Regions from separate parts of the Homo sapiens genome. Here region 1 is linked to region 2. Evidence: fine-mapped expression QTL. Tissue or cell type: sun-exposed skin. Region 2 holds a variant in brackets; the other region holds the start of a gene. All regions are shown on one strand. Distances are between the middles of the regions.

Region 1 (8,108 bases), 74 kb after region 2:
CTGTGATATGACAAAGCAGTTTTTTTTAATTGGGGGAGGAGGATGGTGGCAACATTCCTATCAGAGAAATAACTCTATTTTCCTTCCGAAAGTATACGTTGTTGGGATTTTAGGTTTACTATGTTGTAAAAGCAATATATGAATGCTACAGGCTATCCTCCCTTATAAGATAGGCACACATCTGTTATTATGAAAAGTAACAAAAGTTCTCTGGCTTCCTTCTACCTCATTCCACTGCCCAGAACTGGCTACTGGTCTATCTTCTAAACATTCATGATGCTACTTTAAATACATGGAATGGAATATGTAATGACACATGCACACAACTTATGTACACATAGATGTACAAATATGCATACACACAGGTATACACACACAGTGTACTCTACAATGTATCATATACATATATAACGAGGATTTTTTTTTTTTGAGACAGGGTCTTACTCTATTGCCCAGGCTGGAGTGCCGTGATGCAATCATGGCTCACTGCAGCCTGGACTTCCCAGGTGATCTTCCTGCCTCTGCCTCCCAAGTAGCTGGGACTACAGATATGTGCCATCACACCTGGCTTTAATTTTTTTCTGTATTTTTGGTAGAGATGGGGTTTTGTCATGTTGCCCAGGTTGGTCTTGAACTCCTGGGCTCAAGCGATCTGGACTCTCAAAGTGCTGGGATTACAGGCGTAAGCCACGGTGCCTGGGCCTTTCCATCCTTTTTAACATTTCCTTTGTCTCTGCCCCTGGAATCAAGACAGCTCTTAGAGACACTACTAGTTTTTGCATAATAATATGCAAAATTCACACAACGGGTTAGACTGCAGGTACATCCATTCTAGCATAACATCTGAGATGGCTCCAGGGAGGGAGTTGGGAATAAGACCCATATGTGGCTCTGTCCTCAAAACTTCAACACACTTGGCCTTCCTTTAAACAACCTACTATGGAGTCTTCCATGATTGATTCCAAATCCTCTACAGTTACTACTGCCCGCTACGTCCATCTTGGAGACTCAAGTTTCTGGTATTCACGCATAAAGTCCTGAAGAATCTCCTTTTCCATAAAACTCTCTCTTTGAAACATGGTTCTTGTTCTGATAGTCTAGGTCAGGAGTCTGCAAACTATGGCTGGCCCTTGTTTTTGTAAATCAAGTTTGACTGGAACACAGCCATGCTTGTTTGTTTGCATGTTGTCTATTGCCGCTTTCGTGCTTCAACACCAGAGCTGAGTAGCTGCAATAGAAACTGTATAACCATAACCCAAAAAGCCTAAAATATTTCACTACCTGTCCCTTTACACAAAAAGTTTGCTGATCTATATTTTAGAATATGATGAAAACAGATTTTTTTCCTTATCAAAAATTTTAGAGGACTTGAATCATACACCCTATATCTAGGATCTTTGTCTAGGCTAAAGAGTCTGTTTTCTACTAAAAAAACAAACCAAAAGCACCTTGGCTCAGACAATAGCAGTGTCAGCTGGCAAAGGTTTAACAACTTGAACTCCAAGAGGAAAAAAAAGCTCTGATGTAGCATTTGCCAATTTCCATGGTGTTATTATTCCCACCATGGCTTATTTCAATCTAAAAAATGTGTTGCCACTGAACACGGAGTTAGGAAGAGATATGCACAAATGCTAGTATAAACCAGCTCTGAAACCACTGGCTCCTTGGGACACTTACTATCAATGGCCTAACTCCTCATTTTAAAGTCAAAGACACTGAGACCCAGAGAAAGTGTCTTAACCCGAGGCTGGCCCAGTGACTGGCACCAGGTTGGAGGTAATTTCCCTGTGAATCTGGCTGCCTCACAGGAAATTACTTCCTATGTAGAAGGAAGAGTGGGGGAAAGAAGGCAAAGGAAGTTCTTTGCCAGGCACGTGGTGATACACGTTGGTTTTTATCATCATCTTCACAGTGTGGGACTGGTTTCTTCAGCACATGCCTTTGAAGCACACTTTAGGTAGGGGGTACTGCTCTTCACACAGGACCAGCTTTCATGTACACACTCTGACTATATAATAGACTATCTCAATTAACCAGCAGTTATCAAAGCTATCAGACCATAATTGCCAGAAAGACAGGGACTGCATCTTTTGTGCTCACTACTTTCCTGGCATCCCGCACATAACTGGACACATGAGAAATAGGTGGCCAATAAAAATCTACTGAAAGAATGAAGGAATGAGACCCCACCATCAAAGTGGAATTTTTTAATACAAAGAACACAGCAGGTGCTCAGAGTTTAGATCCCATTTCCTTCTCCTGTGGACTTCTCCTCCTCCTCACCTGTGGACTGTGCAACACACACAACACGCTCATGTGCATGCAACATTTCTCAAGTATCGGCTGTAGCATTTAAACTGATCCATCAGAGCACAAGAGGCTCTATGGATGAAGGAACAAAAGGGAGGATGGAGTTAGAAAATTTCTTCCTCCCAAATATATACACATAACATCTGTCTTGAACTTGTTCTGACAAGGCACGAAGCTAAGGAAAGAGTCCCGTGAAGGACCTCACCTACCACACTCCAGGATGGTGGAAACTGCTTTTTGACAGGGGCTGAGGAAGCACCACTCAGAGTGACACCCTCTGAAAGTGGAAAGTGAAAGAACGTCAAGACTGGAAATCATTATTCCAATAAACTCAAGGCTAATAACCATGCAACTGCAAACAGAAATGAACACGTGCAAGGGAAGGCAAAAGCATGCCTCCTTGTTCTTTTGGAAATAACTTCCTGACTACTTGGTAACTCTCACAGGAACCCCTACACACTTGGCATGGTCTCCCCACTGGCACTTTTGTGAGCCTACAGGTCCTGTTTGCCACATCACTGTTGTAATCCTGATGCACAGACAGGTCAGCTCTGCAAGCACAGAGACAACCAAAGGCATGTGCGAAGCCTTGCTGACTTTTCAGGAGGCTGGCAAGGTTCATCACAGCCTCACGTGGGGACCTAGTACATGGTTTCCAAAGTGAGATCAAACTTGGTTCCAGATACCAGAGGTTAATACTGTCCATGGCATGAGGTGGTGTGTGTTCCCAATCAGAGGAAGGATCACAAACAAGAAGCAGGCCCAATGAATGAAGCCTCTGAAGCATTTCCTACACCAGCATCCTCAAAGTGTGGTGCAGAGAACTCCTAGGGATCTCCAAAGTCAAAACCATTTTCCTAGTAATAAAATGTTACTTGCTTTTTTTCATTCACACATTTTCAGGAGTATACAGTGGAGGTCTCAAGAGGCTACATGATATGTGATATTGCAACAGACTGCAGAAGCAGCTATCAGAATCCAGCTGTCTTCAATTACGCTTGACATCAAAGAGATTTGCAAAAATGTAAAACAATGCCACTCTTCTCAATCATTTTCTGTTTTGGGAAATATAGTTCTTTTTCATAAAAATAGGCAATGTTAAGATATAATTAGTTCACTATTCTTTTTAAATGAATTATTATAGTACAAATTTCTCAGTCTTACTTACATATTATAAATATGGATAGATATAACACACATAAAAGCTCCTTAAGATACTAATTTTTAAGAGTGTAAAGGAGTACTGAGTACCAGAAAAGTTTGGGGACTTCTGTCCTAGAGGTTGTCCCCCAGGGAAGAGAGTTACATGTGTTGCAAGAAGGAAGATGCCATTATGATGTGCTAGCTGAATCTAGAAAAAAATGACTTGGTCATAACTGCAGCCCAAGCTCCTTTCTAGATCTCTGAATCTATCATGGTGGGCTCTGTGTTCAAGCCTCCCACGAAGGGTCTCTTCCCCCTCATCCCATTTTCCCTTTACCCCTTGGAGTGGATTCCCGGATCTGCCCGCACAACTTTAGCAAGGGTTTCCCTATCCAGCCAGCCGGGCCTGGGCGAGGACTCCCAGTGCGGGCCTCACACCCTCGGGGTTAGGACTCCCAGGACTGGCCGCACACCCTAGGCAAGGACTTTCAGGACAGCACGCACAGCCAAGGCTAAGAAGGGTCTAGGAAAGCCACTTCCAATCCCTGGTTTCTCTCCCCGGCATGACATAGACTGGGGACAGGGTGGAGACGTCAGTCGCCAGAAACACGTCCCCGATTCTCCTCTCAGCCTCCCCAAGCTCGCCTCCGTGTCCCCCGTGCCGCCACTGCCTCGGGCACCTCGGTAAAGGCCCGCACCGACTCTCGAGGGATACAGGGTGGACGGCGCTCCCGCCTGGGGACGTGGGTCGGGCCGCGTCGGTACTCACCTCCGACTGCACGGCGGGGCTCCCGCGACCGGCGAACCTGACCCAAGCAGCGGGACGCGTTCCCGTGCGCTGCGCGGTTCCAGCTGCCGCCTCCACGCTCCGCCCCCTCTCGCCCCCGGGGCCGCCGCGCGATGGGCGGAGCAGGGGCGGGAAGGGCGGAGCAGGGGCGGGACGGACGGGCAGCTAGCCGAAGAAGGGGCGGAGCCTGCGGGCGCCCCCGCGGGCCTGGAGGACTTCGCCCCGGGCTGGAGGCTAGGGTTGCGAAGGGCTCCTCCGCTGGAAGTGGGAGGGCTGATCCCTCGGCCCGGGTCCGCTTCTGCCAGCATGGGACCTGGGACGAGGGTGTCTGTTGCTCACTTTGGAGCTTAGCATGTGACTCCCCAGCCGGCGTTAGGAAGTGACCAAAGGGTGGGGAAGAAATGGAATTATTTTTAAAAAATGATTTGGCCATAACTGGAGAGGCTTCATGTACGTGTGGTCACTTGGCCCGCCTCCCTTCTCACTTTGTCCGTCCCCACCCTACCCACCCTCTCCACCCTCGCCTTAATTCTTTGCGCAAAGCCTGCCAAGTGGACATCGGAGTCACGCTGTCAGAATAGGACTTCAGCATTTCCGTGGCAAAAGTTCTATATGTAGATTTCCTTGGACATGTAACAACACTTTCTAATGCACGATGTTCACCGGTCTGAAGTCGGAGAAATGGCTGGGAGATGGCAGCAAGTGGGCTTTCACAAGATCTGCTTTTCATGTTGGTAGGAGTTGTGCCCTCTTGGGTGAATGGCGTTCAAAGAAGTGATTAGATCTTTCTAGATGAAAGGTGGTGAGGTTTTCCTGCCCAAATTATTTGGAAAGTTACTGTAGTTTTCTGAATAAGCAGCTTATAGGATGAGTAAACAATAGCCAGTACTAATAGCCCCCCTGCTACTTTATACTGCCCTCCTATTCTGCACAAAGCCCTGTGATCGACTCTTTCCACGTTATTCAGTTCAGCTCTTCCAACCACCTTACAAGTAAAGAATATTACCCGTCTTTGCAGGTGTGCAATGCGCAACAGCTGAGACTCAGTCCTTAGGTTGGTTTGACACCAAAGCCTACACCTTCCCTGTCATACTGCACTATAGGGTACAACTATCGTCTAGTTATATTTAACTTTGAAATATAAATACTTATATTTATTTTGAAAGGGGAAGTAACTGTATTTCCAATATGAGAGGAGACTGTTTTCCCACCCACTTCCTAAATCCTTTCCATTCACATTAGTAATTAAATTTTCTTTGAATGTCCACCATATGGCAGAGGTGCACCACAATCCCTGAAAAATCATGCTCCAGTCCCCTTGGGAGGTAGGGAGAGTAGGGGCAAGGTGAGAGTGAGTAGAAGGCTGGGGAAGTCCGATGAGGACACATCCAGCTAAATTGCGATTCTTAATGAGGCAGCCATTCGGAAAGCAAAGTATCTAATGTTCAATGATAACATCCGTGTAACTGAGAATCCTTCGCAGAAAACAATCAAATCAGAGCTATGAAGGGAATTGAGATTTATTAGTAAGCACGCTGGTCAAAACCGTGAAGGAAATAGTTCCACATCCCCCCAGTCTGTTGCTCTTGGACGTTGTCACCAGTGACGTGCAGATCGTGAATCCCAGGGCCTGTCCTCTGTTCCTGTCCTTACTCACTACTCTGTGGTATTTGACACTGGCGATTCGTTTTCCTAGAAATGTTAACCTCCTTTTGGCTTTTCAGCCCTCCGCTCTTAGGAGTCACCTCTTCCCTCTTTTGTCCCTCTTTTTTAAGGTCTTTCCCTACACTCTCTCCTCTTGCTTTATATGTTTCTCCATTTGCTGAGTTTTTCTTCATCTATTTTCTCAGTATGCAGACTGCCTGCCACTTCTAGCTGAAGCCTGCTATGTCTCTGTCATTGGTCTTAGTTAACTTTCTGACCTTCACACTCTTGATTTGCAGCCATATGTGGCAACCCCACCTGGATATTCCAAAGGTGTCTGTATTAGACCGTTCTCACGCTGCTGTAAAGAACCCTGAGACTGGGTAATTCATAGGGAAGGAGGTTTAATTGGCTCACAGTTCTGCATGCTGGGGAGGCTTCAGGAAGCTTACAATTATGGCAGAAGGGGAAGCAGGTATGTCTTACCTGGCAGCAGGCAAGAGAGTGTCCTCTGAATGCACAGTGGTCCTCCTGAATGCTTTGAGGGGACCTTAGAATCCCTAAATTTTTCACTGAATATATGTCTTCATACCAGAGAAAATTTGAAATAAACGTTTTGTTCCTCTTTAAGAAAAAAAGAGTTAAATTCATAACAAGGAGAGGCAGGTCTTAGCCTCATCTTGGCTCCCGGTAAATATCCAACGGCTCTCCCCTGATGCCCTCTTCCCACCACACCTGCTATACGTTTAATTTTCGTGCTCTCTTAATTACTGCCTAAGGGCCTGATCCCTGAGCTGCCTTCCCAGGGAACAAGAATCCTCTGGGCAGCTGCTTACAGTTTCTCTCAGTATAGCTAATAATAAAAATCATCCCCATGATCCAATCACCTCCTTCCCTCCACAGGTGGGGATTACAAACCATATCAGTGCCTGTCATTCATCACATCTAAAATGGGAATTTAGTGTCTTCTCTAACCATCTGTCTCTCCCCTCCTATCCATTTAGTTTCTTTTTCATCCTAATCCTGCATCCCGAATTTGTATTTCATGATCTGCTGAGAAAGCTAAATGTTTAAGGGGTATATTGCCATGGCATATTACTACGCTCTCACAGGGTCCACCTAACAAATATTTCTGTCACGATATAAAAGGTTCTGCTAATGGCCCAGCTGAGGGCATATACTCTAGGGACCTTCAGAGAGGATGCCACCCAAGCATGTAACTGCTCAGGCACCCCAGCTGTGCTCTGGTGGGGGGCAGAGGCAGAAGGACCTTCATTTGAAGTAACAGTATTGTTTTAGCAGCCTTACCTGCTAGAAGGCTCTGCTGCTATAAGAAGAACCATGAAGATTCTGCCAGAGACCTGTTGAGCTCTGAGGAATGCCTCATCATATTCCACACCGATTTCAGTTACTTGTATATGCTGGACTTCCTCAGTTTATTGAAAGGTCCTAGGAACTATACCCAACTAACTTTGTATCATGCTTTACAATTTATACTGCATTTTCACATACATGTCATTTAATAGGAAGGGAGAGGTGTAAGAGAAAAAGTCAAGCATAACGCTTCTCAAACCTTGGGGTACATTGAAAACATGCGTGCCTGTGTTGTGCTCTTAGGAGGCTGAGTTTGATGTGGGTGGTCAAAAGACCATGCTTTGAGAAACACCAATGGTAGTTCTCCGAATCTGGGTGTTTCTCAGATTTACCATAGGGCACTGATAAAAATATAGCCTCCTGTATCCTCTGCCTCCTAGAATGTCTGATTCATTAGGTCAGGGTGGGGGTCTGTGTTCAGATTCTGAATACGCTACATTTTTACCACAGGTGATTCTGCTGTAGCATGTCCCCAGATTGGCACCAAAGACCTGTTACCTAGAAATATACACTCCATGAGGGCAGGGGCCCATGTCAGTTTGTTCATCATCCCTAACATGGAGTCTGGTGCATAGTAGGTGCTCAATACAAGTTTGTTGACTGACTTACTGTCAGTGTCTTTCTATTGCTTACCCTTTGCTCTCTGTTGGCCTTTGCGCTGTTCAGAGTCCTCTAGAGTGGCACGGAGGGAAGACATCTGTTTGGCAATGAATGAAGTATAAAATGGTCCTCCTGAATGCTTTGAGGGGACTTTAGAATCCCTAAATTTTTCACTGAATATATGTCTTCATACTAGAGAAAATTTGAAATAAATGTTTTGTTCCTCTTAAAATCAAAGTTATATTCATAA
Region 2 (8,108 bases):
GACACCCTTTATTTTTACAAAAATAATGAAGATAATTTCAGGTGGGATGGGGCCAAGAAGTGGGGAAGGGGAAATTATATTTGGTTTTTAATTTTTTAATTATTTCTTATTTATTTTTTTGAGACAGAGCCCAGGCTGGAGTGCAGTGGTGTGATATTGGCTCACTGCAATCTCAGCCTCCCAAGCAGCTAGGACTACAGGTGTGTGCCACCACGCATCACTAATTTTTGTAGTTTTAGTAGAGATGGGGCTTTGCTATGTCGCCCAGGCTGGTCTTGAACTCTGGACTCAAGTGATATGCCAGCCTCGGCATATCCCAAAGTGCTGGGATTACAGGCGTGAGCTACTGTGCCCAGCCAGTATATTTGTTTTTTTAAATCAAAACATTCTAGGTCTAGCTGGGCATGATGGCTCACGCCTATTGCGCCAGCTACATGGGAGGATCATTTAAGCCCAAGAGTTCAAGTCCAGCCAGGGCAACATAGTAGGAATCTATCTCAAAAAGGGGGAGTGGGGGAAAGGAAGCCGGGTGTGGTGGCTTACACCTGTAATGCCAGCACTTTGGGAGGCTGAGGTGGGTGGATAACCTGAGGTCAGGAGTTCAAGACCAGCCTGGCTGACATGGTGAAGCCCCATCTCTACTAAAAATACAAAAATTAGCTGGATGTGGTGGCACCTGCCTGTAATCCCAGCTACTTGGGAGGCTGAGGCAGGAGAATCATTTGAACCCAGGAGCTGGAAGTTGCAGTGAGCTGAGATTGTGCCACTGCATTCCAGCCTGGGTGACAAAATGAGACTCTGTCTCAAAAAAAAAAAAAAAAAAAAAAGCTAGATCTAATTTTTTTTTTATATAAAGCAAATTTGAATTTGAAGTGGTATGGTAATCAATATATTATCTATGTATGATCCGTAACCAATTAAAAGATATAAGGGGGAGGGAGATTTCCATTCGCAGTGACAATAAGTGTAGCTCATGCATGTAGAACACTGACTCTCCAACAGTCCCTGCAAATGCTTTACTTACATCAATAGGCTTTACAGCAATCCATACAGTAGTGCCTCCTATGTCATTTTATAGGCAGGAAACTGAGACTTGAATAGCTTCAGTGCCAGTAGATCACACAGCTAGTTCATGGTAGAGTTGGTAGAACCCATCTGTTTCACCATTACATCTACCAGCCTAATCAGAAAAGTTTGAAGCAGAAATGAGGACAAATAAAAAAATTTTACTGGGAGATATTAAGATAAAAGAAATGCCATGCTCTTGAATGGAATGACTGAATATTTTAAACACGTGCATTCACCCCAAATTTGCTTATTCACGTGTCACAAACCATATTGAAAGCATAAATGATACTTTTAACTTGATAAAATGGTTCTAGAGTTTATATAAAATAATAAATAGATGAAAATAGCTATATTTCTAGAAAAATAAAAATGGGGGTAGCTAGTAGTTTCGTATTGATAAGGCAATCCCTAATGAATGGAGATTGCCTTATCAATACAAAACTACAAGCCACCCCATTAACATTTTCATGGCTCTTAGCATAAGACTAGCCTAACAGAGAAGAGGCAACGGTGATGGGCATTTACCCTGTGCTGGGCAGGCCTGAGCAGTCATAAACTCATGTTATCTCCTGACAGTCCGTGAAGCAGATGCTATTGTCCCATTTTGTATGTAAAGAAACGAGGCACTTGCCCCAAATCACATAGCTGCTAAGTGACAGGGACACTATTTGCACCTAGGCTGTCTGGATCCACCTGGGACACGTGAAAGCATAATCTGATATGGAGAGGCGCCACCATAAACCATAAACCAGTGGGACGGACAGAATCTTCCATAGAAGACATGGAGGAAATCAGTGTGTTCTTTCTTCCTTCATGAGGCTTCAGGGTTCCTTTTATCATTTCCTCTGTTTAGAAAACTTCTTTTAGCCATTCTTTTAGGGTAAATCTGCTGATGACAGATTCTCAGTGTTCCTTCATCTAAGAATGTCTTCATTTCTCCTTTATTTTTGAAGGTGGCATTTTGCTGAGTCTAGGGTTCTGGGGTGGACTGTTCTTTTCTTTCAGCGTTTAAAAAATATTGTGCCACTTCCAGGTAGCCTCCATCGTTTCTAATGACAAATCTCCTGTTATTCAGACTGATTTCCCCCTATGGGTAAGGTGTCATTTTTTTTTTTTTTTCTGGCTGCTTTCAAGATTTTTTTCTTCAGTTTTCATAAATTTAATTATAACCTGTCTTAGAGTGTTTTTTGAAGGGGTTTATCCTGTTTGGAGCTTGTTCAGCTTCTTGAATCCTGGTTGATGTAGCTTGTTAAATTTGGGATATATTTGGAGGTCATTTCTGTGAATACTTTTTAAGCCCTGCTCTTTCTTCACTCCTTGCAGAACTCCAGTGCCATGACATCATTTTTTATAGTCCTACGGGTCCTTGAGACTTTGCGCTTTTTTTTTCCCCAGTGTATTTTTTTGTTGTTCAGATTGGGTAATTTCTGTTGTTCTTTCAGTTCACTGACTCTTTTCTTTGTCCCTTCCATTCTGCTATGGAAAGCCCATCCATTGAACTTTTTATTTTGGTTGTATCTTTCAGTTCTAAACTTTATGTCTTCCATTTCATTGTTGAGCCTTTATGTTTTCTCTTTATGTTTCAAAAGTATTTATAATTGCCCATCGAAGCATCTTTATTAGGTGCTTTAAAATCTTTCTCTTCTCAGTGTTGGCATCTATGATTGTCTTTTTTTTTCATTCAGTTTGAGATCTTTCTGTTTATTGGTATGAAGAGTTTTATAATATCATGTCCATGGTTCTAAGTTGGACCATGTTCTTAGCCAAGGCCTAGATTTTGAATTAGAATACAATCATACTATACATATGCAACAATATTCCCTGTGGCTGAAGGGGAGAGAGAAAAAAGGTTTTAGATGTTGGGGGCTGTATTAGTCTGTTTTCATGCCACTGACAAAGACATAACCGAGATTGGGAAAACAAAGAGGTTTAATTGGACTTACAGTTCCACATGGCTGGGGAGGCCTCAGAATCACGGAGGGAGGCAGAAGGCACTTCTTACATGGCAGCGGCAAGAGAAAAATGAGGAAGAAGCAAAAGTGGAAACGCTGATAAACCCATCAGGTCTTGTGAGACACAATCACTATCATAAGAATAGCACAGGAAAGACTGGCCCCCCATGATTCAATTACCTCC[C/T]CCTGGGTCCCTCCCATAACACGTGGGAATTCTGTTAAGATACAATTCAAGTTGAGATTTGGGTGAGGACACAGCCAAACCATATCAGGGGCTCTTCTGCCTGTTGTATCACTCACTGAGTTTGTGCCTGCAAATGGATATAATTATGCCTGAAACAGCGCATATTGTATATCTGGTACAGGTTTTGTTTTTTTTCCCAAGTTTTGCCAAACACTAAAGTAGAAAGCATAGTTCATATGACTATTCTATGGACATCTTTAGTGCTTTTATGAGCATTTTTGATGAAGAAATTGAAAGACTAATTGGAGGCCACAATTAAGCATTGACTAATACTAAGTTAGGAGAACCAATAAAATCTGTGATTTTACAAAGTCAGGTACCATATGTTCATGGAAGTTGTATATGAATGATTATACATGTGCGTGCATGTATATGTATTGTACGTATCTGTGCCTGTTTCTTGCTATATATGTTGTACTCAAATTACATTTGCGGTCTTTCTTTTTGCATTAGATTCTGCATATACAGACTCATGAAAAATTCATCAGAGATAGTCAAGAAAAACCAAAACCTGTACCTGATAAGGAAAATAAAAAACTGCTCTGCAGAAAGTGCAAAGCCTTGGCATGTTACACAGCTGACGTAAGAGTGATAGAGGTAAGCTGCCTTTTTACAAAGTGCCTGGTCATGTTTTAGCACTAGCTACAGCTTACTGTTGGTGAAATATTTATAATAAAACTACTATTATTTCCATTGTTACTGTGGCCATGATCTGTGTATTTAAAAAAAGCTAAGAAGTGAAAAAAAAATACTAAATGTTCAATAATAAAGAAATAGTTTTTGGCCAGGCATAGTGGCTCATGCCTGTAATCAAAACACTTTGGGAGGCCAAGGTGGGCGATCACGAGGTCAGGAGTTCGAGACCAGCCCGGCCAACATGGTGAAACCCCGTCTCTACTAAAAATAAAAAAGTTAGCTGGGCGTAGTGGCAGGTGGCTGTAATCTTAGTTACTCGGGAGGCTGAGGCAGGAGAATCGCTTGAACCGGGAGGCAGAGGTTGCGGTGAGCTGATATCGCGCCACTGCGCTCCAGCCTGGGTGACAGAGCAAGACTCTGTCTCAAAAAAAAAAAAAAAAAAGTCATGCTAAATGCAATGACGTGTCCTGGATTAGCTCCTGGAACAGATAAAGGATACAACTAGAGAAAGAGTGGTAAAATCTGTAGTTTAGATAATAGTAATGTACTGATGTTAATTATCTTGGTTTTGACAAATGTGCTGTGGTATATGAGATGTTAACATTTGGGGAAACTGGGTAAAGGGTATGCAGAAATTTTCTGGGATATCTTTGCAATTTTTCTTTAAATCTAAAATTGTTCCAAAGTAAAGTTTATTTTAAAAAATTATGAAGTTTATGTAGTATAATGAAAAACTGCTTACAAACTAATGGTAATAAGGAAAAAAGTAACCAGAACACAGAATTGTAAAGATGCTACTTTGTAGCTGTGTGAAACAACAGCAGCAAATACATTCATTGTCATTGTCAAGAGAAAAAGTCAAAAAACCTACCTTGCTACAGAAAAACAAAGGCTAGGGGAACTATACCAAAATGTATTAATATTTTGGTGGTGAGATTCCATGACTTTTTTTCTCTTTTCCTACTACCTTATGTTTTCCAAACATTCCTTTTGGGCTATGGATCACTTTTATAATGAAAACAAAATATCTCCTTATTTGTAAAATGTGACATCTGCAGATTAGCCTTCTATTGCAGCCTTATATTTCTTTCTTAAAACTTTCAGAGAAAGGGTTAGAAAAATCTCCAAAGAGAAATATGGGGTATAACTCTTGCATGGGGGGCACAGTGGAGGGGCTGGGCTGGCTCAGATGAGGAGTTATTACTTCAGGATGTTCCGTTCGTCTTCAGAAAGCAGAAATCTCTCATCAGCTCAGCTGTTTGGGCAAAAAGCCTATTAGGAGTCATATTGCTAAGTTCCCTTACCTTTCTAAGTCTGCTTCTTTAGCTGTAAAAGGTCCTTTCAGCTCCAATTTGGGTGATTGTTCTACTAAAAATGGCCCTTTTAGACCCTATGTTTTCCTGAGGGACTAGTATGTTGGATCTGCATTTGTTTCTGAGCTGTTTACTCTAAAGTTGACTCTAGGTGGGGCCTGTGGACACATTAGTCCCTGACCTTCTTCAATTGCATCTTGACCTTGGTCGTTTTCCCTGTATCCTTTGGATTGTGCCTGCCAGGGCCACTGGTGAACTTCAGCTTCACAAATTTTCAGCAAACATCGCTTCTGTTTTTGAATAATGAGTATCTACCTTCAGAAGCTGGGTTACCTGGAACCTTCTTAATCTTCTTCTTTATGAGGTGCCCAGTGTCCTCACTTGCAACCCCACCCTGCCTGTAGAGGGGAGTCAGGTGCATGGATCCTCTGGACTTTGGGTGAATCTATTTTTTTTTTTCCTCCAATTGTAAAATAAGTGAGACCCACCTGTTCTTTGCCTCAGATTATTGTGGGGTTTTCTTTTTTTTTTTTTTAAATCACAATTATGTACTGGTTCTAACGTTCTCTTTTGTGTGTTATTCCATCCCTTCATCTGTAGGAATGCCATTACACTGTGCTTGGAGATGCTTTTAAGGAATGCTTTGTGAGTAGACCACATCCCAAGCCAAAGCAGTTTTCAAGTTTTGAAAAAAGAGCAAAGATATTCTGTGCCCGACAGAACTGCAGCCATGACTGGGGAATCCATGTGAAGTACAAGACATTTGAGATTCCAGTTATAAAAATTGAAAGTTTTGTGGTGGAGGATATTGCAACTGGAGTTCAGACACTGTACTCGAAGTGGAAGGACTTTCATTTTGAGAAGATACCATTTGATCCAGCAGAAATGTCCAAATGATATCAGGTCCTCAATCTTCAGCTACAGGGAATGAGTAACTTTGAGTGGAGAAGAAACAAACATAGTGGGTATAATCATGGATCGCTTGTACCCCTGTGAAAATATATTTTTTAAAAATATCTTTAGCAGTTTGTACTATATTATATATGCAAAGCACAAATGAGTGAATCACAGCACTGAGTATTTTGTAGGCCAACAGAGCTCATAGTACTTGGGAAAAATTAAAAAGCCTCATTTCTAGCCTTCTTTTTAGAGTCAACTGCCAACAAACACACAGTAATCACTCTGTACACACTGGGATAGATGAATGAATGGAATGTTGGGAATTTTTATCTCCCTTTGTCTCCTTAACCTACTGTAAACTGGCTTTTGCCCTTAACAATCTACTGAAATTGTTCTTTTGAAGGTTACCAGTGACTCTGGTTGCCAAATCCACTGGGCACTTCTTAACCTTCTATTTGACCTCTGCGCATTTGGCCCTGTTGAGCACTCTTCTTGAAGCTCTCCCTGGGCTTCTCTCTCTTCTAGTTCTATTCTAGTCTTTTTTTATTGAGTCCTCCTCTTTGCTGATCCCTTCCAAGGGTTCAATATATATACATGTATATACTGTACATATGTATATGTAACTAATATACATACATACAGGTATGTATATGTAATGGTTATATGTACTCATGTTCCTGGTGTAGCAACGTGTGGTATGGCTACACAGAGAACATGAGAACATAAAGCCATTTTTATGCTTACTACTAAAAGCTGTCCACTGTAGAGTTGCTGTATGTAGCAATGTGTATCCACTCTACAGTGGTCAGCTTTTAGTAGAGAGCATAAAAATGATAAAATACTTCTTGAAAACTTAGTTTACTATACATCTTGCCCTATTAATATGTTCTCTTAACGTGTGCCATTGTTCTCTTTGACCATTTTCCTATAATGATGTTGATGTTCAACACCTGGACTGAATGTCTGTTCTCAGATCCCTTGGATGTTACAGATGAGGCAGTCTGACTGTCCTTTCTACTTGAAAGATTAGAATATGTATCCAAATGGCATTCACGTGTCACTTAGCAAGGTTTGCTGATGCTTCAAAGAGCTTAGTTTGCGGTTTCCTGGACGTGGAAACAAGTATCTGAGTTCCCTGGAGATCAACGGGATGAGGTGTTACAGCTGCCTCCCTCTTCATGCAATCTGGTGAGCAGTGGTGCAGGCGGGGAGCCAGAGAAACTTGCCAGTTATATAACTTCTCTTTGGCTTTTCTTCATCTGTAAAACAAGGATAATACTGAACTGTAAGGGTTAGTGGAGAGTTTTTAATTAAAAGAATGTGTGAAAAGTACATGACACAGTAGTTGCTTGATAATAGTTACTAGTAGTAGTATTCTTACTAAGACCCAATACAAATGGATTATTTAAACCAAGTTTATGAGTTGGTTTTTTTTCATTTTCTATTTGTATTTTATTAAGAGTGTCTTTTCTTATGTGATTTTTTTTAATTGCTATTTGATATGGTTTGGCTATATGTCCCCACCCAAATCTCATCTTGAATTATAATCCCCATGTGTCAAGGGAGGGACCTGACGGGAGGTGATTGGATCACGGGGGCAGTTGTCCCCATGCTGTTCTTGGGATAGTGAGTTAGTTCTCATGAGATCTGATGGTTTTATAAGTGTTTGACAATTCCTCCTTTACACACACTCTCTCTCTCATCTGCTGCCATGTAAGACTTGCCTGCTTCCCCTTCTGCCATGATTGTAAGTTTCCTGAGGCCTCCTCAGCCATGTGGAACTGTGAATCTATTAAGCCTCTTTTCTTTATAAATGACCCAGTCTCAGGCAGTTCTTTATAGCAGTGTGAAAACAGACTAATACACTATTGTTTAAGAACTCCAATAGGATGTGTAAAACATCTACTAGAAATAGATTTAATAAGATAAAAGTTATTATTATTATTTTTTTTTCTGAGATGGAGTCTCACTCTGTTGCCCAGGTTGGAGTGTAGT

The links. PIP is the estimated chance that this variant, and not a neighbour inherited with it, causes the effect.
Region 1: it holds the start of ACO1, and the variant in region 2 is fine-mapped to the expression of ACO1 in sun-exposed skin (GTEx, PIP 0.99).

What each region holds. Positions count from the first base shown.
Region 1 is chr9:32,380,850-32,388,957 of GRCh38, reverse strand. It overlaps ACO1 (aconitase 1), which reads right to left and starts at 4,315. Exons shown (of 21, transcript NM_002197.3): 1 at 4,223-4,315. RefSeq lists a silencer at 4,135-4,514.
Region 2 is chr9:32,455,124-32,463,231 of GRCh38, reverse strand. It overlaps RIGI (RNA sensor RIG-I), which reads left to right. Exons shown (of 18, transcript NM_014314.4): 17 at 3,718-3,861; 18 at 5,814-7,930. The coding sequence ends at 6,110. LOC101060445 (a long non-coding RNA gene) reads right to left here and starts at 4,190. Exons shown (of 1, transcript NR_197444.1): 1 at 1-4,190. The variant C/T (reference allele first, on the strand shown) is at 3,205.